7 linked regions of the Homo sapiens genome follow. The protein of the gene in region 1 purifies or fractionates together with the protein of each later gene. This does not show direct contact. Each region holds a gene or a part of one and is shown on either strand. Other genes may lie near its edges.

Region 1 (2,930 bases):
TGGATTAGCCCCTTGTTTGCTGCTCCTTTCGGTACAGACGCCTGGGAAGGCTTTTCCCACACAAGATCACTCATCTTTTGACAGGTTTAAGCATTCTGTCAACTGTCCATCATGGGTTCTCAAGGAACTTAAAACAAGTATCTTCGTGCCAATAAACCTGAATAATACACAGAGTCCCTTCCTATCCATGGGAAGGAAGCGGAGTTGGCTCATCCAAGTAACCCTATTAGAGGTAAGTTGTTAAAAAAAATTGTCATCATTCCTAATTCTCCCAAATTATTTTGGTCTCTTTGTACTACTTATCTTCATCACATCACATTACATTTAGATGTTGTGAACAATTTGGCAAGAAGCTAAAATTACTGACTAATGTTTCTATCAATTTGTATGATCAATGGCTAGATAATCAGAGTTGGCTCTACAGCTGACATTCAAAAGCACGACTACCAATTTCTGCCCACACAGGCTATCCTTGACATTATTACTGTCTCTCTTATGTAAAACCTGTATAGAAAGAAATTTGTTATATCAAATCCAACTTTAATTCTAGATGAATATTCAGCTCTGGGCCAGGGAGAAGGCATCACTGTACAAACCCCAGAGTCTGCTAACATCCCCAGGCACAGAGCCTATCATTCGTTAAACAAACCATCTCTGGGGAAAATGACAACAGCCTGAATAAGAATATGGTGACCATCTTAAGGACAGCTCCAATTAATGGCAACAGTAGGGACGGTGCTGGCTGCAGAGGGTGGAAGTGCAGGAAGTAGCAATATTTCCTCTCAACAAATATAAATCTCTTGCTTAAAGCAGCATGCACAGAATGACTGAAAACGCTGGCAATATTTTCCCTATATTAAGCTATAAGCCAAGGCAAATTTAAGGAGTCATGAATTATCTTTGGGATTGCACAACAGTACATGTTCAAAACTAACATTTCAAAAGGGTATTTTCCTCATCTGAAATTCCCTCATCTTAATTCTATAGTAGAACAACCCATTGTACATAAATATTTAATCTTTTATACATTTTCGGTTTTAAGATATGATTAAAGAAACAACTTGTTATTGTCGGAAGAGCCAGGGAAGAACAGTAATCCATTAATAGTGGAAACCACATATACCCTGTTTCTTCTCTCTTAGTGAGATACTGTTATTTAGGGAGGGGTAATTGAGAATTAATGTGCAAGTTAAGTGGGAAGATGTCACTCAACTCCTCAAAGTTCATACCAGAATAATGTGAATGCCAGAAGGCTGATTTTCACAATTTAGTGCTATAACTGACAGCATTTGAAATACATGAAGAAAATAATCGAGCCCGTGATGTTACTCAGCCTTCCTACCAGAAAAGAGAGTAAAGCATCCCCACAGGAGTGTCTGTTCTCCTCTTCCAGCCACAGTCACAAGTGTGCTAGCACCTTACCTGGTGAAACATGGGAAGAGGAAAAACACATGAATGCCTGTTGGAGTTATTTATAAGAAACCCAAGCAGAATTTATAAAATATAAATAGAAGAACTCATCACCTAAACTCATGGCCACACTACATTACACTAGCAATAATTATCTTTATAACTGTTGTCAACTGTCTTTTCAAGATGAGACAACTTAGCATCAATCCATCTGGTCATCTTCTCTGTTTGAGTAGTTCATGTCTAATAAGAAGGAGAAATTCTCATAACTGTACAACAAGGTATATGCTGAAAACTGATTACCCTAATAATATTGGCTTCAATATTCTAGACTATAAACGTTTTTCTTCCATCATAATATTTTCCTAATACTTTGTATTTCCATGGCTCTTGAGTTGTTTTTTAGTGCTTTCCACATCCATCTTCCCTCACGTGACCCTCATGACGGCTCTGTGAGGTAGCCAGGGCAGGCATCAGTACCCCACTTTGCAGATGACCCTGAGACTTGGGAAAGTGACTCAGCTAGGGGTCACATGGCTATTAAGAATCGAAAGAGGGACTAGAAACTATCCTAATCCAACACTCTTTCCTCCATACTAATGGATGGGAATTGCTTCTATCAATTTGTGCATTAGCAATCCACATCCTTCTCAAGTTCAGGCAACTGAGTCAATTAAAAAGGTGACTGGAAAGGAATGGCTCTACTTTTACTGCCTCAGTATAAAAGTCTCTTAAGTTGTGGCGTCAGAAAAATTAACTTCTTCCCACTCCAGTCTCTAAACCTGAGCATGGCCCTATAATGCCTTTAAGAAACTGGGGATAGAAATGGACACTGAAGTGTAAAATGGAAGGGAGACGGAAGGAGGAGCCATCATCCCTCAGAGAGCCACATAGAAGGCACTTCAGACAATGTCCTCGGCAGGGTGGTGGAATGCACGTGTGCCCAGGGTGGAGAACTGGTGCCAGTTCCGCAGGAAGCCCCTATTGTACTGGCCTGTGTCCACGATGAGCCCGCAGAGGAGCCGGCGCCCAGTCTTCTGTCGGAGGGCCTGCTGGACTTCCCGCTCAGTCACATTGTAGCTGATGTTGATCAGCTGGATCAGGAAGATGTAGGCCATGCCTGCTGTGATGATCACAGAGTACCACACGCAGGTGAAGGACAGAGCCGAGCTAGGAGAGGGAAAAAGGCTGTCAGGGCTGCCGTTTTTGTCAAATTCAGAAAACTGTCATCATTCTCACGTTTTACACATTTTTTTACTTATTACTAAAGACTTTGGCATCTTCCCCAACCCTCCGAACTGGAAGATACTCAGAATGCCAATAACCTGCTTAAGTAGGAGAATGTGTGTGTTTATTCTATAATTACTGGTGCCTATTTTCTAGTATATTACACTAGAATAGCAGGGACTGTTTTTTGCATTTTGTACCCTCCACACACCCAGCACGCTGCCTGACATAACAGCGTTCAACACCTGTTTGTTAAATAAACAAGTAATTCGTAAATTACATCTAACTCATGA
Region 2 (3,500 bases), on another chromosome or scaffold:
GGGAAAACTGATACTCTAGGCACCGGACATAAACAACTGTCACTTGATCCCAATGTTTAGTTAACATAAAACCGTCATCCTTAACCAGTCTGAAAAAAACATGGCCTCCCAGACCTTGAAGCAGGGTCCATCTTCCAAACCAAATCTTCACACCTGGGAGGGAGGAAAAGGCTTGAGGCCACTCATCCAGCCCTTTAACTCTACACGGTAGGACATGCACAGGTTCTGTGACTTCACACAACCAGGTAGACCACCTCAGGCAGGACAAAAGTCACCAAAATGCCAGGACAAGGATTATATTAGAAAACATGCCACGTCATGAGATCACAGAAAGCGACATATGGCCCAGAGTAAAACACAGGTTAGCAGCTCCATAGAAACACAGATGTAGGAATTCATTTTTTTATTTCTACAACAAAGGCAAAAACAACTTGATATTTTTAGCCTATTTTATATTTACGTGATTAACCCATTGGGAAAACGGCAAAGGTCCTTAATGAACATGTATCCTGTTTTTAAACTAAAGCCATGACTATAACCTTCTGATACATTTCACATATGAAGTACCTTTTGGTAGGACTGTGCAATAAAGGTGAGGGTAACATCCTCTAAAAGGACATCAGAGGTCGGGCATGGTTGCTCACACCTGTAATTCCAGTAGTTTGGGAGGCCGAGGCGAGTGGATCATCTGAAGTCAGGAGTTCGAGACCAGCCTGACCAACATGGTGAAATGCCATCTCTACTAAAAATACAAAATTAGCCGGGCATGGTGGTGCATGCCTGTAATCCCAGCTACTCGGGAGGCTGAGGCAGGAGAATTGCTTGATCCCGGGAAGCGGAGGTTGCAGTGAGGAGAGATCATGCCACTGCACTCCAACCTGGGAAACACCAATGAAATTCTGTCTCAAAAAAACAAAAACAAAAACACGACATTAGAAAATGTCCCATCTGAAACAATGAGGCATCAAGAACTAACTGGCATAGAACAAAGAGGAAATAAATAGGCCGAGCGTGCTGGCTTACGCCTGTAATCCCAGCACTTTGGGAGGCTAAGCAGGTGGATCACCTGAGGTCAGGAGTTTGAGACCAGCTTGACCAACATGGTGAAACCCATCTCTACTAAAAATACAAAAAAATTAGCCAGGTGTGGTGGCACATGCCTCTAGTCCCAGCTTCTCCGGAGGCTGAGGAGGAGAATCGCTTGAACTTGCGGGCGGAGATCGCGCCACCGCACTCTACCCTGGGCGACATAGTGAGACTCCGTCTCAAAATAAAAGAAAAAAGAGCAAATAACTAAAAGAGTATAATTGGATTGTTTGTAACACAAAGAATAAGTGCTTGAGGGAATGGATACCCCCATTCTCCATGATGTGATTATACACTGCACGACTATATCAAAATATCTAATGCACCCCATAAATATATACACCTACGTATCCAGAAAAATTTTTAAAAAATTTTAAAAAGGAGCAAAGCTTTAGCAGCCTCAACAACACACCTGATGTTTTTCCACTGTGGTTTCTTACATTAAGGAGCAAAGCTGTTTTTTCCTTGCTTGTGATAACATCTACAGTGCAAAATGTGCTGTTCTAAGAAAAGCGGTTGGCCAAAGCACACAAAGGCATGAAGTTCATGTGTCATCAGAGAGAGGAGGCAAAGGTGGTACTGGAAGAGCGGATGGATTCACCTAAGGCATTCCACCATGTGTTACATTCAGATGGGATCCCCAAGACTTCCAGAGCAGAGCAGATGGCTGGGTGCCCCAGATTCGGGGCTGGGGGGGGTGACTGTGGAGGAACTGTGGGAGACAGAGCCATGAACATCTCTGGGCTGAGGAGATTGTTCTCTCTCCTGATGATGATGGTGGTCACACCAATCTATGCATGTGTCAAGACTCATAATGCACCCAAAGAGACAAACTTACCATATGGTAATTTAAATAATAAAATTATATAGATACAGCCCTAAAATGTAAGAGGGAAAAGATAAGGAAAAAAACAAAGCAAACTACTAGACACCATCGTGACTGATGGTGATACCTTTCCAGACCCAATTCCCAACTTCAGAAAACAGGAAACTATAAGCATGTTAGGCTAGCCGGGCGCGATGGCTCATGCCCATAAGCCCAGCACTTTGGGAGGCCGAGGCGGGAGGGTCGCCTGAGGTCAGAAGTTCGAGCCCAGCCTGGCCAACATGGTGAAACCCCACCTCTACTAAAAATACAAAAATCAGCCGGGTGTGGTGGAGCATGCCTGTAATCCCAGCTACTCAGGAGGCCGAGGCAGGAGAATCGCTTGAACCCGGGAGGCAGAGTGAGCCGAGATCGCACCACTGCACTCCAGCCTGGGCTGTGAGAGAGACTTCGTCTCAGAAAAAACAAACAAACAAACAAAAAAGGCATGTTAGGCTCCAAGCATTATAATAATTCTATGTCGGTCGACTGAGTAAAGTGGCTCACACCTGTAATCTCAACACTTGGGGAGGTCAAGGAGGAAGGATCACTGGAGCCCAGGAGTTTGAGAGCAGCCTGGGCAACACAGTGAGAGCCTGTGTCTACTAAAAATAAAAATAAAAAAATTGCCAGGTATGGTAGTGCGCATTTGGTACTCCCAGCTACTTAGGAGGCTGAGGCAGGAGAATTGCTTAAGCCCAGAAGGTTGAGGCTGCAGCTAGCTATAATAATTGCACTGTCTCAAAATAAACAAATAAATAAAAACTAAATGAGAAATATAATAACTCTATCTCCTTTAATACAAGGAGCCTGGGAAATCTCTCTCTCCCTCTACCCGACCCCTATATATATAATTACATATATATATATATACTCCTACCCACCTCCTCTCTCAATGAGAAAATTAATGTTAGAGAAGTTCACTGATTTGCCCAAAGCTCCAGTCAGTGCACGGCAAGCTAGCTGCAAACCAGGTTTCCCTCATAGCTGTCCCCAGCGCCCAAGTTCAGCGGGAGCCCAGATTCCCCATGACCAGGCAGGGCTTGGGGCACCTCTGGGGCTCACTTGGACGTGGGGGCCAAGGTCCCGCAGCAGGACCACACTCTGGGAGCCCTTTTCCTACTGACACTTGGAAGAGGGCCTCCACGAGGAAAATGCAGGTCCACACCCAGCTGGCTCAACCTGTTTGCTAATTTAACAGTTGCAGGAAGGGAAATGTCTCCAGACATTGGCAAATGCTCCCTTCAAAAGTGGGGGACAAAACTGTCCCAAATGAGAACCATTAGTTGGCTGCAACATTCCAGAGCTCAACGTTGAAAATACTGTTCCAATAAGCAAGCATCTTTTCTACCTTCATTTCTAAAGCTTCCCTTTCTCCTGAACCCGCCGCCTATCATGCCCCATCTCAAATCTCTCTGATCCCATCGGACAAGAACAAACCTAGACAAGAAAAGGAAGCAGTACCCGACTTCCTCTGAAAACTCAACATATTCTCTCTTCCATCTTAACTTTAAATTTGTTCCAATTCCATTTGTAACGGTTTCCAATT
Region 3 (3,500 bases), on another chromosome or scaffold:
GTAGGAACTGAGAAAATCCAAAGAGGTAAAAGATTGCTTTTCAGTGCCCAGAGAAAGAAGAGCCAAACCACCAGAATCATGAACAAACTGATTAGAGGAATGCTTCCTCTAGCATTCTACTCTCTGGACTTTAGTCAAGGAACTGTAAATACCTTTCTCTGGAACTCAAACAGGAACTAATTTACAAAGGGTAGAATCAGTACTTTAGTTTTTTTGAGGAACTGGGAGTAAAAGAGATAATCTTTGATGCTAGGCCAAGGGATTAGCTCCGAACCACAAGGAGCAGAAGAACTATGATACCCTACCCTAGTTTCAACCCAAGAGAAGAAGAAAACAGAGGGCAAGTGGCAGCATCTCCCCTTAGACAATGTTATGTAGTAGTAGCGCTGGAATAAGCCTGATGCAGCATCCTTGCACCCAGATAACCATCTGGTGTATTATCTGTGATCTATTTCCATGGGTCATACTGACCTACAGAGCCATTCTTATTTATGGCTCTGTAAGATTATACAGTGCTATAGATAGGGAATAGTTTGATAGATGGGATAGAAGATAGAAAGAAAATTGAAGCTGGATGAAAAGATAAGAAGAGTGTTGGAAAAGAGTGGGTGGGAAATAAATGACACAGCGAGTGGGAAGGAGAGAGGGTGTGTGTCAAAATTCAATGTTCTATATTTAATTGCAGAAAGAATACCAATTTTAAAGAAATCACTCTCAAACTGGTTCTAAAGCATCCATGAAATTGACTACTCCCTCATTGGCCCAGGGCCAGATGAAATTTGGACTATGCAAAACAGAAAATAAAATGACTCCAGACCCTGGGCTATCTCTACTCTCCAGGCTATATTCTCAATAAAGACTGCCAGGTCAGGTCTCTTCTGTCCTCTCCCCTCAGGGTGGCACACCAAAAGACTAGCTGTTTTCCACTTAAAACACTCAGCATTAACTCAAATACTTTTTGCCCTCTAACTTGTCCTAGTGAAATGCAAAACAGGTGAGTTCTGAAAGGGTGAGGAAGCAGAATAGGAAACCCATCCATTTAGTAGCAGAGCTGGAAACAGAATCCAAGTCTCTTTATTTAATCAACAAATATGTACTGAGTGTCTACTGGGAGTAACACTACAGATGTGCCTATTACATTTAATTCAAATGCGAGAAACACAGTCTATACTAATGATTTTTCCCTACCTCTTCCAAATAATACAGACAATGCAGCTAGAGCATAATTCTCTAGAAGATGTTCAGAATCTGGTCTGATAACCACAACCCACTGATTGCACCAACACGATGGAATGCAAGGTTGATTTTATTTTCTGCTACATTATCATTTAGATGAGTTAGAGACAGTTTACAGACAACACTCAGCTTACTGACCAGGAAGTGGAAGATGGCACAGTAAGCAGGTAGACTCAGTAAGATATTTATCTGAATAAAGTTTTGGGTCTGAGTATTTCTACAGAATTATCTGGCCTCATATGTATTAAATGCATGAGAGATAACTCAGTATAATTTTTCCTGTCATTCTGAGAGAATTACAAAGCATGGACAAAAACAACAAAACCTCTACAGAAGAATCTCAGGACCTAAAACTAAAGCAAATGAAAGGAAGAGGACTTTGAAAAGAGGAAGCCAACAGAAAAACAATCATAATAAGGGTACAAAGTACCTTGGAAAAATTGTAAAACACCTTCCTTACAAATGTGAGGTAGGTTCATTTCACCTCTCTCCGTTTGTACTAAGCATAGATGAACAAAGTCCCACAAAAAGAACAGATGATGCGTTTATGTTGCTTAAGGAAAATCATTCCAAATGCATTTTCTTTAATTTTTAAATTTTATTCATATACTTGAGACAGAGTCTTGCTCTGTCGCCAAGGCTGGAGTGCACTGGTGCAACCCGACTCACTGCAACCTCCGCCTCCTGGGTTCAAGCGATTCTCCTGCCTCAGCCTCTCGAGTAGCTGGGACTACAGGCCCGCGCCACCATGCCCAGCTAATTTTTGTATTTTTAGTAGAGACGGGGTTTCACCATATTGGCCAGGATAGTTTCAATTTCTTGACTTCATGATCCGCCCGCCTCAGCCTCCCAAAGTGCTGGAATTACAGGCATGAGCCACTGCGACAGGCCCCCAATGCATTTTCAAATCTACATGCTGTCAAAAGTTTCACGGTAATTTGTGACATGAAGGAAGATTACTTTTATTTGCCTATTTCTGCCTGTATTATAAACATAATATAGAATATCTGTCTATAGAATGTCCACTGTTAAAAAATGATTAAATCTTTGTAACATAATTACTTTAGTGAAACCACAGAGCAGTGCAGAATTTTCACTACAAAATCTGAGGCTTGAAGCTTCATGTTAAACTAAATGACTAACCTTTGTTAAATAAATAACTGGGAAAAAAATTAGCATTTAGCAAAAGCATTTGAACTATCCTCTCGTGAAAACATGAAAATATTTAGGTTTGTTAAGAGGACTTAAGTTCATATTCATAAACCACTCATAATAATGCATGATATACAATAAAACTGCAAATAAATGTTTGCTAAATAAGTAAAAATGAACTTAGAGGTACTATATGAAATAACATCTTTAAGTCCTTTGGCAAAAATATACAGGCTGTCTTTCTTCTTTTCATAACTTCCCAATCCCTTCCTTAAATGTTAAAGAAATGTCCCTGATTGTCATGCACTTCCTGTGCCTTATCAGAGTACACTTGCTAGGCATTTGTTCACCAAATCTTATCCTTTGAGTTCAGGTGGTGCCACAAACCTGTATTTCTGAAAATGCAGTAGTTGGACATAGATTATCAGCCTGGCAGCTAAGTACCTCATGTTTGTACCAAGCCAAACATTTTTGTAAGATGTAGAATATATACATACTCAACTAGATTTCATTTTATGCTCTTAAACTTTCAGTTTTATCTGCTTCACACATCTTCTGACTGCTGATACCAAAAGAGAGATGCTTGGTAATCATACATAGCATATAGGACTAGGTACCATGCTCTAACAGTGAAGAATTTAAAGACAGGAAACATCTTTTATTCCCCAAATTTCTGCTTCTCTATCCTTAAACTGCAGGTAACCAACCATCTTTAGTGCACTATGAATTAACATATGAGAAATAAAAAATTAATAAAGCAATCTAATCTTAAAAAACCACACAATCTATTTCAGAAAATATCCTTTCCCCCATCAATCCACATTTACTTCAAAACGTGTCCAAAAGTCATCTTTTTCTCAGAAACCTCTTAATCATATTCACCCACTCTTTATCTTTCCTTGTAATCTTTAAACACTTCTTCCCACTCTGTAACAAATAAACAGATCTAACACACAGAAAACCCAAGTAAGGCTTGTTTCTCAGATCTAAATAACACATAATTTTAAATATTTTTACTACATAATTTAAAGCATTCTACCAAAAACTCATTTTGACATTGGTAAAAAACAATCAATTCTGAAGTTAAGTATGATTATAATTGTTTTCCTGTT
Region 4 (3,500 bases), on another chromosome or scaffold:
GTGAGCCACCGAGGCTGGCCTAATTATAGTTCTTAAAAAAGTATGCATCAATAAATTATTCTAAAACTAAAATCATAGCTTCATCATTTTGGCAAGATGCCCACGCCCTAATATGGGCAAGGAAGGAGAATGAGAAGCTAAATAGCAGCAACCTGTGCATCAGGCCTCAAAGCTCCAGAGACGTGTGGGCCTGGGAGATTGTGCCCTCCCGTCAGGGACATGGCTCTTGCAGGCACACACGGTAGGGTGTGTTTGAGAAACACTGAAGCAGAGCATACTTAGGAGAAGGCTGCCGTATGAGACCAGAACTTCCATTCTGCCAGAGAGCAAAGGGCTTGCACGTTTTCCCGCCCTGTAGATGATGTGAGTGTCAATGAAGTCTTAAGACTGGCCCCAAGCCCAACAGCCCCCCAGCCCCCACTTCTGTCTGTCCTCACTATCCTGAACACCAGGAAGGAGTCCTGATCAGGAACCCCGGAGCCAAATCTGGTGTACCCTGATTTTGGATTTCCAGCCCCCAGAACCATGAGGAATAAATGTCTGTCATTTAACCTGCCTCATCTATGATATTATGTCACAGCAGCCCAAACTGACAATGACAGTCCCCGCTTAGACAAAACCTAAGATGCTAAAACCCCTTTAAATCCCAGGCTGGATCCTGAACCTGCATGAAGTGTTTAGACCCCAGGACTATACGAGTCACAAAGGCTTCTGTCCCCATGGCGCTCATGAGTTAATGTTTTCACAAACCCAGGAGAAACACCAAACGGTGTTGCTTCACTGTTACACAGGAGTAGGCACCAAGCTCTTTAGGAAACAGCTGGTCTATTTTTCTCATTCCAAATCTAAACCTCAAAGCTAAATGCCGCAAGGTGAAGCTGAAGGCCGTACTCACGTCCAGAGACTCCAGGCAGTACCAGCAGAAGGCGTGCTTGCAGTTCTTGCACATCATCTGCGCGCAGCCTTCGTCTCGCTCGATGTAGACTTTGCACTTGGGGCAGCGCTTGATGGGCGCGTCATCTTCTTCCATTTTGAAAGCAGCACTGTGGGAGAAACGCCGTGAGGACTCTGCACAAACGGATCCCACGGGAGACCCAGGAGCACTGGCTATGCTGGAAGCATCGGCTCCACTTCACAGACTGAGTTTTCTTGGTATTAAATGAAAAAACAAAACAAAAACCAAAAAACAAAGAAACAGAAACTCCAGAAAAAAAAAATTAACCAGAACACTGTGAATCAGCCACTTTGAGTTAGGAAAAATTTTTAAAAAATTACAGCAACATCAACACATATCTAAATTTAGAGATATATGTATACAAACAAAAGAAAATACAGCGAAAGGCTTATTATAACGGAGGTATCTGAATCATAGTGTTAAGGTCAAATATTGTATCCTTATTCACAGAGCTGTCTACTTTCCAAAGGGTTGATATAAATTTTATGTACTTTGCTGTTATAAGAAAAATAAATAAATGTTGCAAATACACACACACAAACACACACTGTTTACTTGAGATAGATCCACCTGGCTCTTCTTACAGAATTGTTTTCCTCAGAAGTTGGCTAGGTCTGCAGGGTTAGCAAGAAGGGCTTTAAGCTGAGGTCAGAGCTGGGTCTGCTACAAACCAGCTGTGGAGCAACCCTCCAAGCCCTAGTTTTCTCATCAGTGTGACCATGAGAAAAGATTCCGTGTGCCAAGAGCACAGCGCAGGGTGCAGCTTTTATGAAGTGCTTGATAAAGGGTAGCAGTAGTTCAATGTTGCTAAAGAAAGATAACACAGACATTAGGTATGACTCACCCCATGCTGTTAATTTTTAAAAGATGGGTAAGAATATTCAGAAAAGCATCTGAAGGAATAAATGATAAACTGTTAAGAGGAGTTATCACTGATTATGGGGGTCCATTTGCTATATTGTTGGAACTCACTATATCAAACAAACATCAGCAGGAGAAAATGCATCCCTCCTTCTCGGGGCAGCTTTTTCAGAATTTAACACATGTATGGGTATATATTCACGGCAGTTGAGCAAATTCTGGCTTTTTGAGTGCATTCTGGCTGAAGGATCTCTCACAAGCTTCCAGTCAATATGAGCATTAAATGTAGTTTCACTTTAGTAGGAGCTGTCTGATGATTGGCAGTGAACAATCCTCCACTTGGGGTGCACATTCCAACTGAACGTGACTGTTTGGTCCATTAGTAGAAGGCAACAGAGTAAGAAATAATGAGAGAAGCAGTATGTCCTCCTAATTAGGAGCACAGAGTCTTGAGACAGACAGATCCTAGCTGTGCGATTTATGTGTTACGTGTCTCATCTGCAAACCAGATGAATAAGGCTAATAGCATCGATCTCTACAGACGGTTGTGAGGATTACAGAGGTTGCACATGTTAACATGTTAAGCACAAAATCCAGCACATAAGTACCAGGCACTCAATAAACAGTAGTTATTATTAACAACTGTTACTGAAAGATAACACAACTGTCACTAGCTCAAATGCTTCCAATTTAAAAGCAAACTGCAGACCAACCTGGTCATGCAGAATGTGATAAAGAATGAACTAAGGTTGTTGCAAGGAGCAAACGAGATAGCATATGTGCAAATGTCTCCAGAGGGATCCAGCACAGAGCCAGCTCCGAGTAAACCTTAGGCCTGGCCTCCTTCTGAGAATGACTTTGATTTTGCAAAAAGCTGGAAGTCATGAGACACCGGATCTGGTGATCAAGGTTGGGTTTTAGGTTAGATAACATTGTTTTGGTTTGAAAGCCAGGTGTGACCTTAAAGCTAAGAAACCAATTTTCTCATGTGACTCACAAGCTGATTTTGGAAGAAACGGCAGGAACAGCGTGTACAGTGTCTCCTGGGGAGACATTTCAAAATGAAAACCGTTAAAATATGAAAGTTCTGGTGTACTGTGCTATGCATAAAATTTTGCATGGAATAGACAATGGTTTTCAAATATTTCTTAGTATCTGAATTGGATTTAAAATTATTACTAACAACATTTACTGTAAACTCAAATTATAAAAGCAGAGAGGAGTTTGGACAGTTTAATCACAATCTACACGTGGCCCAGCAGCTTGAAGAGGTGCGCAGGTGATGCTAATGAGTGAAGTGGTCAGGGGCTGGATAAAAACATGGTTGAGGAGAAGATTTAACCAAAAACAACAACAACAACAAACCCTCCAATACAAAAAATAGCTTAGTGTCTTCTCAGTTATAAATGGCAGCTGACAGGCAGCCTCAGTTCCAGGGGACAAGGAGTAGTGAGGACTGTGGGGCTTTGGCCCAGGAGGCGCCTCCAGCAAGAGCTGGGGCTCTGCTACGCTGGCTGCCAGCATGGGGAGGCAGCCTCGGAGAGGCTTAGGATTCGGATTTCCCAGAGAAGCCAGAAATTCCAGTTTTTATGTGACATCTTCTGATTTAAAAATTTCCACAAAATGAGATTTCTGAATTTTGATTTAGATCATCTTTGGACAATAATTTAAATGAGACTAGAAT
Region 5 (3,500 bases), on another chromosome or scaffold:
TTTATGCCACTCCTATGAATTGCTCTACTCAAAGCTCTCACCAGTAGGGAACAGAAAAACAGGAAAGCATTCTGTGTTTTGCATCCTCAGAGAAATATATCCTTTGTGGTAGAGTAGTGTTGATATGATCTATTATAATTGCATCTCCTAAGCTTTATAATTTCTTTTAGTTACTAACACACTGGTATTGACAGAAAAGAGCTCCACTCTTCAAGCCGACAATAAAGAATTTATGGAAGAACAACATAATATAGCTAATGGTCATAAGCTTATGCTTAGGAATTAGACATATATGGATAGGAACTCAACTTTGCCACTTACTAGATACGTGACTTAAACCAAATTACTTATACTCTCTCTAAACCTCAATTTCTTCACTTGTAAAACAGGACATAACATCACCTCTTTTCAGAATTGCAAGGATTGAATGAATTAGCCCACATTAACCACTTTATACATTGTCTGACAAAGAGTTAGATTTTGAGATTAATTTAAAGAAAATAGATGGCAAATATCCAAAAGTTGCATGTTTCTTGGCTTCATTAAAATAGCTTATATTTGAATTCGTTTACTGTCTAATAAATAGAAATATTTGCTGGGGACTATCAGTGATATTTTGTTTCTTCAGAGTTTCAGAAAATCAGCTGATGATTCCCTCAGAAGGTCTGCAACATTATTCTTCACAGAATAAACCTGACAAAAACCCTCACAATTTGAACAAGAATGTCTGGTAGCTAATGGTCCTGGCTGGAGAGGCACTAACACTGAATGTTGTCATTAAGTTTGCCAATATTAAGGTATTGTGTATCAGGGAGTGAACATCATTGGTCCCTGGGTCAGGCACCTTTTAAATACATCCTATTTTATTACAGGCAATAACTACTTGCCTTACCTCAGCCTGTATTGGCAACTACAGCAGTATCTGTTTTATCATGCCCAACACAAAACAGCTGTCTTAAATATCAGCCCGTTGACTTTATTGAGCAGATACAAGAATGTTCTTTTGTTCTAAAACTTGGTTATTATAGCAGACTACCTCCTACCTGTCAAATCCCACATGACTGATTGTGTCTTGGCAGAAGTGGGCCTATGGGGTGGAATCTGTAGAAACTGAGTGTGCATTTACAAATCCACACTATTCTAACGACTGTTTTATTCCACACTCTCTCCACATTGAATTAATCAGCATGGGATAACATGCAGCTTTATCACTGTCACCTTGGTTCTATGTTTCTGTGGCTCCCCAAATTGACTATAAATTTTTCCAAAGTACAGATACCTTCTTCTATGTTGCTGTGTGCCACACAGTAAAATGCTGAAGAACCTGGGATAAGACTAATAGCCAGTTAGTGCTTTTCTTGTGACAGGCTGGGCATTGTACAGACTTTATTTCATTTACTCATCCAACAACCTTGAAATTTTGGTTTTTAAATAATTTCTATGTTACAGATTAGGAAATGAGGTTCCAAAAGTTGAAACAGGTTACCCAAAATAACATTCCAAAAAGGGATAAAAATGAGATTTAAAGACATCTGTCTGATTTCTAATTCCATTTTCTTGCTGCTATACTCTGCTGCCTCAAATTCTCATTAATCTCTAAATGCAACATTCTTATGGTAATAAAAGTATTTAGAAAAGTGCAGCCAGTAGCTTAGCCTTGATTCTGCGTATTTAAATAGGAATGGGATGGAAGTAACCAAAACAAGCTACCAAAATCCCTTTGAGAAGATAGCTTATTAATCATTTCAGTTCTAGAAAACTATCCCCAGGAAAAAAAAGTAACCAGAGATGTTAGATGTTTGTGATGGAGAATACTCATTTTTAACACTGTTTTGAATAGCAACTTTTTGAAATAAATTTTGGAAAACAAGGGTTAAGTTAAATAAACATAGTACAACCATATAATAGAATACTGCACAGACATGGAAGGTTATATTTCCAAAAACTAATAACAACAACATATTCATGATATAATATTAAGGGAAAAGTACAGGAAAAATATTGTATAGAATATATAATTATATTCTATATTAATACACACTATTAATATATTACATATTGTATTATGTATTATATATTATATGTGTGTATATATTAATATACACAGAGAGAATATAAATGTGATGCTATACATGAGACAAAAATGAACTCATTTGCTCATAGTTTGACGCAACAGCGAAGGATTTTAATTTTTTTATTATCTCTTTGTAATCATTGAGTGCTTAACTAATGTCACAAGCAGTGTTTTATCTCACTTACATGTATTAACTTATTTAATCCTCAAAGCAAATATAAGAACTGGGGGCTATTATTATCCCCACTTTACAGATGAGGAAACTGAGGAACAGATGTTTCAAAGATACTAAGTGGCAGAGCTAATCTAGCCCTACACCCACGTTCTTCAGCGCTAAGCAAAACTGGCTCTCAAACAGGCTAAGAACTGGATGAAATCTCTTTGAGAGGAATTGTATTTCTTCTCAGTCTTGAGTAAACTCAAATAGGGGATATAGGCTTCTGCCTGCTACAACACAAATAACAGACCTAAAGGAGCACAGCTATTACCACCCTCTCCTGTGGGATCCTGTCCTTTAAACTGCTTCTAGATTAGCATTCTCCACATACCAGGGCTGTTTTAAAACCCCTCAGGCCCCAAATGCTAAAAAACACAGGCAGACCAAAATACTGGTGGAACAACAATGTTAAGTAAGGTATTTCTCTGAAAAAAAAATATACCAGGGCAACTCTCACATTAAGACTTCAACGCCACAGTTCAGAAAGTTCCCAGGACAAATTTTACTGAAACTCTGGGGCTAAGACAAACCTAAATATGATCAAAAAAGGCACTACAGGGTGACTACAATCTTGAACCACAGGATCTCAAGAGCTGCAGAGACAGAATAGGATGTTACGGTCTACAACAACTTTACCCTCTGTTTACCTGTCATATGGCTCATTAACAGCACAACAGGCAGTCTAATATCCCTAGCTTATATAACTTAATTTATCAACTAACAACATCACTTGAAAATCTATTTACATAGTATCTCCAAATTTTTTGTCTGACTAAAGAAAGGTAAAGTATGCTAAGAGATGAACCAATGTGGACTAAGGTAGAGCCTCCAACTGTTGTGTTTGAATGCTTTGATTCCTTTCACCGCAGATCATTAGAACAGCACAGGTATCTACCTCAGACAGCCAACTCCAAAAAGGGTCAGACACTCTCTCTTGGAATCTAACTTTGCTTTCGCAGATGGTCAGTTAATCACTAAGTGTAGCTGGACTTGTAACATGTAAACTTGCAAAGGATATGCCACCAGTGGATGGAGAAAGAGGGAAAGAAAAATACAACTTCAAAGTAAGAGAAGAATAAAAGTGTAGAGAGAACCACATGAAAAGGAGAGGGAGAAATTTAAAAGTCTCTAAGTTCCTAACTGCAATATACCTGCTATCACAACTTTTATGGATTATAAAATCATACAACCCCACTTATTCCAGTAGAG
Region 6 (3,500 bases), on another chromosome or scaffold:
AGCCTCATCTTTAAGGCACAGCGTTAAAATTTTAGCTGTGTGGCAACCACCTTGAACTTTAATTTTAAAAAGAAAAAAGGCCTAACAATAGCAATCCCTGATAGGTGGATTTTCAAATTGTCAGCATTCATCATTGTCACTCAAGGTCACCCTTTTATTAGCTTCAGAGATTTGAATGAGAAAGTATGCTGGGATGGGATAAGAGATAAAAAAAAAAAAGAGATCCCAGAGATTTGAGTTCTGAGAGCAAATACTATTTAGAGACTACACTACAAAGATGGAACACTGTGGCTCTGTCAGTGAACAGTAAGGTGAAAAGAACAAATCTGACCAATAACTCAATGAGAGCAAAATCAAGAAGCTCCACGTATCTTTCAAGGGCACCTCCAGGGGAACCTCCTAGAAGCAGCCAGGCCCGCCCACCCTGCTCCTGAAGAGCAAGGCTGTGGAAGGTGAGAGCACACACAGAAGCTAATGACGTCCATCCCTCCAGCCCAGCCTTCACAAACCAATGGCCTCGTCCCACCATCCTTCCCAGGACCACACCAACAGTAAGCATAGTCCGCCGGGTGTGGTGGCTCACACCTGTAATCCCAGCACTTTGGGAGGCTGAGGCAGGCAGATCACTTGAGCCCAGGAATTTGAGACCACCCTGGGCAACATGGTGAAACCCCATCTCCACAAAAAACAGCCAGTGTGGTGGTGCACACCTGTAGTCCCAGCTACTTGGGAGGCTGAGGTAGGAGGATTGCTTGAGCCCAGGAGGCAGAGGTTGCAGTGAACTGAGATCACACCACTCCAGCCTGGTGTCACAGTGAGACTTTGTCTCAAAAAAGAAAAACCCAAAAGAACACATTAAGCATACTCTAATGAAGCCTCATGACAAAGTAAAAGGTTCTGTGAGTTGTCTGAAATACAAGGTGACATCCTCTCAATGTTTCTCATTATAATCATGATAATGGCTTAGACATTCATAGGAATCAGAATCTTCACCTAGTTTTCATAAATGGTTCCCTAAAACCCAGCAGATGAGATGCCTCCATTCTGCTGTTTCTCAGGTCTGTTTCTGAGAAATACACAGAATTCACGCCTACCTTGTCCACGTTGGCCCGGGTCTTCGCTGACGTCTCCACGTACTGCACGCCCCACTCTTCGGCTTTACTCCTGGCCTCCTCCACAGGCACCTGCCTCCGCTCCTCTAGGTCAGACTTGTTTCCCACGACGAGCAGTGGAATTTTATCTTCTTCAGCCTTCACACGGAGAATCTGTTCCCTAAGGTGTTACACCAAAAATACAGCAGCTAAAAAAACTAAAGAACGAACCCTGGTTTTGTGAACCCATCTAAAATAAAAGGCTTTCCTAAGGCAGAAGGAAAAAAAAAAATCACTAGATTTAGGGCATGTTCTGAGAAAGCACTCCCTAGAGGCAGTCATGAGCAAGACAAGTGTTTTCCAAGTCTGCTTCTCAGTTTGCCCACATCAGAATCCCCTGGGATGCTCATCACAAATGCAGATTTCTGGGCTCAGTCTTACAGAAGTGTCTGGATAGGAGCCCAGGATTTTACGTCACAACAGGGTCCCCAACTTATGCACACACAAAAAAAAAAACAAAAAGAAGAAAAATGGTCAATCTCTGCAATAAAAACAAGCTAAGGGAACTATCTCCATAAAATGCTTAATTCCCCTGAAAATATTTGTTTGTGACATAAAAGCTATGAAATCCAGTGTTTTCTATATGGAAGGTGGCAGCCTATTAGTGGATCACAAAACCAATCTAGTGGGTCGCAACCAGCAGTTTCTCCCCCCTGCAGTGAAATAGATTATAGAACAGAACTGACCAGATCAGAAATATCCAAGGGAATCTCAAGTAGGAAAGGTGAATATTGTATTGTTTTGAAACTTCAGTTTTGATTAGATCTGCATGTGTACACGACAAGTATGTCATCCCATCCCCAGTTTCCATGCAGACACAGTAATGTTATAGGCCACAGAATCGAGACAGATATGTTAGGCAGTAATCACATTCCAATACGTACCATTTTTCTACTACAAAGTGAAAAAAATGAAAGGAAATACGACAAGCCCTATGGAAAAGTACTTCAAAAGTGTCTTCTACAAAAATACCATTACTCGTAGCATATTAAATTTTACGTCTACTAAAAATTATCAGCTATCTGAAAGTACTAATCAAAACTAAATATTTAAAAAAATTAAATACCCCATTTCCATTATTTTGGTCCCATGAGAATATTTCTACTTTTATATGCCAATACATTCTAAAAAGAGTCCCCTTCAAAAATGTATTTTGTAGAGATCTGTATTGATTTTTATATGGTATAGGGTAACATTTCACAATAATAAAAATATTTTCTAGGCGTGGTGGCTCACATCTGTAATGCCAGCACTCTGGGAGCCTGAGGAGGGAGGAACACTTGAGCCCAGGAGTTCAAGACCAGCCTGGGCAACATAGGGAGACCTTGTATCTACAAAAAAAAAAACAAAAAAAAAAACTAAAATTTTCATGTAGTCAATTTAAGTGCCAGACATCAAATATTTTAAGACAAACTAAAAAAGATGAAAAGATGCTTGAAATTGGCTTTGTGTAGCCTTGTTATAGCCTACATTTGAACTGGGGTCAAAGAACATGATACATTTGAAGTCATGTGATCATTATAAACTATGAACAATAAAAACTGATAGCTTTCTGGCTCATTAGTCTTGCAGGGGCACACAAAATTACCTCATTGATAAACATATCGATCCAAAAATGGGAGTACCAAGTTCTGGTCTCTTATGACAGAACTTATCTTAGTTCATAAAATATTTTCCAGAAAAAGTTTCAAGGAAGACAGCATATTCACATGTCATTTTATATTGGGGCCTTTCTATTTGGAAGATAGTACACAAATGCTGTTTTAAAACTGCTAACAGACATGAAGTAAAGTGACTTGAGTTTAGCCACAGGGCTCAGATAATTGACCTGCATTCTTCTGTTCCCAACAACATGAGAAACCTACGCAGAGGTCAACTTCCCCTTCTTTCTGGTTTTAGGTATTCATCTGTCCTTTTTCTTCTAAGGATCTCTCTTTCCACCTAACAACCAAAACCCTTTTCCACATTGAGGGGAGCCCTGCTCCAACTCTGTGAGAACGCCCGAGTGCTATCTGTGCATGTGTGGTGACTGAGGAGAGGACAAGGAGCACTTGAAATACCTGTATTTCTCCATATCCTCTGCAGAGAACTCTCCTGCCCACTTCCCTTCTAAGTAAGTCACAGAACAACAGGAAATCAAAAGGCTCGGGACAGGGAAGAAAAGAAGAGAGTGTGTGCATCTGTCCTGTTTTACCCTCTATGAGGCATTAAAAACAGGACTACGCAGATGCAAACAATTATAAATACATGGGCTACATTCAAACAGAGCAGCCCTTAGGAAGGTCTGAAATGTCTAAAAATTAACAGAACTTCTCATAATGAGTCATAGTCACTTAACTAGTCACTGCA
Region 7 (3,321 bases), on another chromosome or scaffold:
TATATATATATTTTTTTTTTTTTTTTTTTTTTTTTTTTTGAGACTGGGTCTGGCTATCTTGCCTAGGCTGGAGTGCAGTGGCAATCATGGCTCACTGCAGCCTCGATCTCCCAGGCTTAAGTGATCCTCCCAGCTCAGCCTCCCAAGTAGCTGGGACTACAGGGATGTGTCACCATGCCCAACTAATTTTTGTACTTTTTGGTAGAGACAGGGTTTCACCATGTTGCCTAGGCTGGTCTCAGAATTCCTGGACTCAAGCTGTCTGCCTCTCCTAGCTTCCCAAAGTGCTGGGATTATAGGTGTGAGCCACCCTCCCCAGCCCGTCTTAACCTCTACTACCTTATTTGGCAGGAGCCAGTGGTCCCCCCTTTCCTCCACAATAACTTATTTTTGTTTGCACTTAATGAGTTGTCCTATAGTAGGTCTAATAAAATGTGTGATATAATTGGCAGTGCTGTTCACTTTAAGAGCAGCTTTTGATTAAATTGGGCTCCTTCCCCATATTTAGACTTCAGTGATCATAATGCTGAGCTTTGCATACCATTAAGAGTTAGTGGGTTTGAGTAAAGGTGTTTTAATAATATTTTAAATAAGTACCAGTAAGTACTAATAATATTTTTTTTGTGTGTTAGAGGTTACAATCAAAAGTTTTAAAATTAGTTGATATATCCTATGGTGGTGAAAATGGATTCAACCAAGCTATTGAGTTATCTACTGAAGTCCTCTCCAACGTGAAATTCATTCAAGAGAAGAAATTAATAGGTATCGGTGAAATGCAACTACTTATTCTGTGAAATGTTTTCGTGTGTGTGTGTGTGTGTGTGTGTGTGTGTATGTGTGTGTGTGTATGTACGTGATTGTATGTATGAGACAAGGTACCAAAAATGTAAAAAGGAATATTTAGTATTTTTATTAACTCTTTTGCCTCAGTAAAAGCATTATTTTTTATCTTCTTTAGTCATTAGGTCGAATAGGTGTGTTTGTATCTACTAGGGAAACTTTAATATATATCCTGTTGACTGATCCCTAATCGTAGGACGATACTTTGATGAAATCAGCCAGGACACGGGCAAGTACTGTTTTGGCGTTGAAGATACACTAAAGGCTTTGGAAATGGGAGCTGTAGAAATTCTAATAGTCTATGAAAATCTGGATATAATGAGATATGTTCTTCATTGCCAAGGCACAGAAGGTATGAGAATTAGAAAATAAGGTTGCTATTTGTTACTGAGCCAGGAAGCCTGGGGTGGAGATTTGGGAGGGATGGCTGATTTCAGGAGCAATCAGAAGGTAGATCTACCCATTGTTCCCCAGTCCTTCAGTCTGTAGCACATTCCTGCATAGATTTTTCTGCTTGAACTGTTTAACGTCTGCTTAAGATTGTTACATCTGCTGAGGACCAGGACTATATCTTGAACATCTCTGATGTTCCTTATGGTTGAAGCATTGTACCTAGTAGACACTCAGTGTATGCTAACATGTTTATGGAAAAAATGTTGAGAGATTGAGTCCCTGAGCCCTTTTCTCATCTAACCTCATCTTATGGAGCTTACACAGATTAGTATATGAGAGCCAGGTTAACACATTTTTTCCTCCTAATACTACAGAGGAGAAAATTCTCTATCTAACTCCAGAGCAAGAAAAGGATAAATCTCATTTCACAGACAAAGAGGTATGTGATTATTTTCTTGGTTTGATGATACGTGCAAGCGTAAATCCGTGTGTTAGAGTACTGGCTGTGTAGAGGGTGAGCTTTGGGAAACCAAACCTTATACTAATTGGGGGTGCTGTGGGAGGTGGTCATCTATCTGCCACATACGAATCTGATTTCAGGGAAGGAGCTGCAGCTTTTTTTTTTTTTTTTTTTTTTTTTTTTTTTGAGACAAGGTCTTGCTCTGTTGCCCAAGCTGGAGTGCAGTGGCATGATCTCGGCTCGCTGCAACCTCCACCTCCTGGGCTCAAGTGATCCTCTTGCCTCAGCCTCTCTGGTAGCTGGGACTACAGGCATACACCACCACGCCCAACTAATTTTTGAATTTTTTGTAGAGAGGCGTTTTCACCATGTTGCCCTGGGCTGGTCTCAAACTCCTGAGCTCAAGCAATCCACTTACCTCGGCCTCCCAAGTGGTGGGATTACAGGTGTGAGCCACCATGACCGGTCTTTTTTTTTTTTTCTTTGAGATAGGGTCCTGGTCTGTCACCCAGGCTGGATTCAGTGGCACAATCATAGCTCACTATAACCTCGAACCCCTGGGCTCAGGCAATCCTTCTGCCTCAGTCTACTGAGTAGCCAGGAGTACAGGCACAAGCCCTCATTCCCTTTTTTTTTTTTTTTTTTTTTTGAGGTGGAGTTTGCTCTTGTCACCCAGGCTGGAGTGCAGTGGTGTGATCTCGGCTCACTGCAACCTCCACCTCCCGAGTTCAAGCAATTCTCCTGCCTCAGCCTCCCGAGTAGATGGGACTACAGGCGCCCGCCACCACGCCTGACTAATTTTTGTATTTTTAGTAGAGACTGGGTTTCATCATGTTGGCCAGGCTGGTCTCGAACTCCTGACCTCAGGTGATCCACCTGCCTTAGCCTCCCAAAATGCTGGGATTACAGGCGTGAGCCACCATGCCAGGCAGCCTAATTTTTTTTATAGAAATGGGGTCTTGCTGTGTTCACCAGGCTGGTCTTGAACTCCTGGGCCCAAGTGATCCTCCTACATTGGTTTTCCAGAGTGGTGAGATTACAGACGTGACCCACCATGCCTGGCCTGGTTTTTGTTTGTTTGTTTGTTTTTGTCTTTGTTTTTAAGTAGTTAAGCAATCAGGAAAACATTTCATTATCCTTGAAATTTAATAGGGAGGAAAATGTAATTTACATAATGCCTCTCCTGCACTGTGAAACCTGTGCTGCTTTCTTCACTTGATCAGCTCTTCCACTGCAGTGGCTTCTCTGGTTTGCTCTAAGTGCATCACAACAGTTGAAAGTATGACCCTCCCGTATGAGATAGGTTTAAATGATAGCTTCCTCAAATTCTGGTTTGGAGAGCTTTGTTCTCTACGAGGCCACTCCCAAAAGCAGTCCTGGAATGTCTCTTCTGAGCCATTGAATGGGTGCTGCTTAGAGACACTACAACAGCCTGACTTCTAGAGTCAACAGTAGGAATCATAAGCTGAATACCCACTGAGTTTTTGTGTTGGTATTTCATAGCTGAGGGTAGAGCCTGAGGAGAAGTGTTGTTTGAAATAATCCGAATTTCTCTGCTGATATCCATTAGGTTATCAAAACCAGAGATGACTTACAGAGCTTTACACACAGACATGCCTATAAATGGG

Evidence for each region.
Region 2: the proteins of ZDHHC23 (region 1) and TBL1X purify together in Homo sapiens (affinity purification with mass spectrometry, with the first as the bait; one large-scale study listed by BioGRID). This does not show direct contact.
Region 3: the proteins of ZDHHC23 (region 1) and UBTD2 purify together in Homo sapiens (affinity purification with mass spectrometry; one large-scale study listed by BioGRID and IntAct). This does not show direct contact.
Region 4: the proteins of ZDHHC23 (region 1) and RNF144A purify together in Homo sapiens (affinity purification with western blotting; one study listed by BioGRID). This does not show direct contact.
Region 5: the proteins of ZDHHC23 (region 1) and CPNE8 purify together in Homo sapiens (affinity purification with mass spectrometry; one large-scale study listed by BioGRID and IntAct). This does not show direct contact.
Region 6: the proteins of ZDHHC23 (region 1) and RALB purify together in Homo sapiens (affinity purification with mass spectrometry; one large-scale study listed by BioGRID and IntAct). This does not show direct contact.
Region 7: the proteins of ZDHHC23 (region 1) and ETF1 purify together in Homo sapiens (affinity purification with mass spectrometry, with the first as the bait; one large-scale study listed by BioGRID). This does not show direct contact.

Annotation. Positions count from the first base shown.
Region 1 is NC_000003.12:113,958,013-113,960,942, reverse strand, and holds part of ZDHHC23 (palmitoyltransferase ZDHHC23), read right to left. Parts: intron 2,581-2,930; coding exon 2,313-2,580; 3' UTR 1,423-2,312; coding exon of another isoform or gene 1,400-1,422; 3' UTR 224-1,399; coding exon of another isoform or gene 210-223; 3' UTR 1-209. UniProt on the Homo sapiens protein: Palmitoyltransferase that could catalyze the addition of palmitate onto various protein substrates and be involved in a variety of cellular processes.
Region 2 is NC_000023.11:9,468,058-9,471,557, reverse strand, and holds part of TBL1X (F-box-like/WD repeat-containing protein TBL1X), read right to left. Parts: intron 1-3,500. UniProt on the Homo sapiens protein: F-box-like protein involved in the recruitment of the ubiquitin/19S proteasome complex to nuclear receptor-regulated transcription units. Plays an essential role in transcription activation mediated by nuclear receptors.
Region 3 is NC_000005.10:172,235,265-172,238,764, forward strand, and holds part of UBTD2 (ubiquitin domain-containing protein 2), read right to left. Parts: intron 1-3,500.
Region 4 is NC_000002.12:7,021,912-7,025,411, reverse strand, and holds part of RNF144A (E3 ubiquitin-protein ligase RNF144A), read right to left. Parts: intron 1,044-3,500; coding exon 896-1,043; intron 1-895. UniProt on the Homo sapiens protein: E3 ubiquitin-protein ligase which accepts ubiquitin from E2 ubiquitin-conjugating enzymes UBE2L3 and UBE2L6 in the form of a thioester and then directly transfers the ubiquitin to targeted substrates.
Region 5 is NC_000012.12:38,895,592-38,899,091, forward strand, and holds part of CPNE8 (copine-8), read right to left. Parts: intron 1-3,500. UniProt on the Homo sapiens protein: Probable calcium-dependent phospholipid-binding protein that may play a role in calcium-mediated intracellular processes.
Region 6 is NC_000002.12:120,287,352-120,290,851, reverse strand, and holds part of RALB (ras-related protein Ral-B), read right to left. Parts: intron 1,273-3,500; coding exon 1,095-1,272; intron 1-1,094. UniProt on the Homo sapiens protein: Multifunctional GTPase involved in a variety of cellular processes including gene expression, cell migration, cell proliferation, oncogenic transformation and membrane trafficking.
Region 7 is NC_000005.10:138,508,916-138,512,236, reverse strand, and holds part of ETF1 (eukaryotic peptide chain release factor subunit 1), read left to right. Parts: intron 1-632; coding exon 633-762; intron 763-1,036; coding exon 1,037-1,192; intron 1,193-1,607; coding exon 1,608-1,672; intron 1,673-3,321. UniProt on the Homo sapiens protein: Component of the eRF1-eRF3-GTP ternary complex, a ternary complex that mediates translation termination in response to the termination codons. The eRF1-eRF3-GTP complex binds to a stop codon in the ribosomal A-site.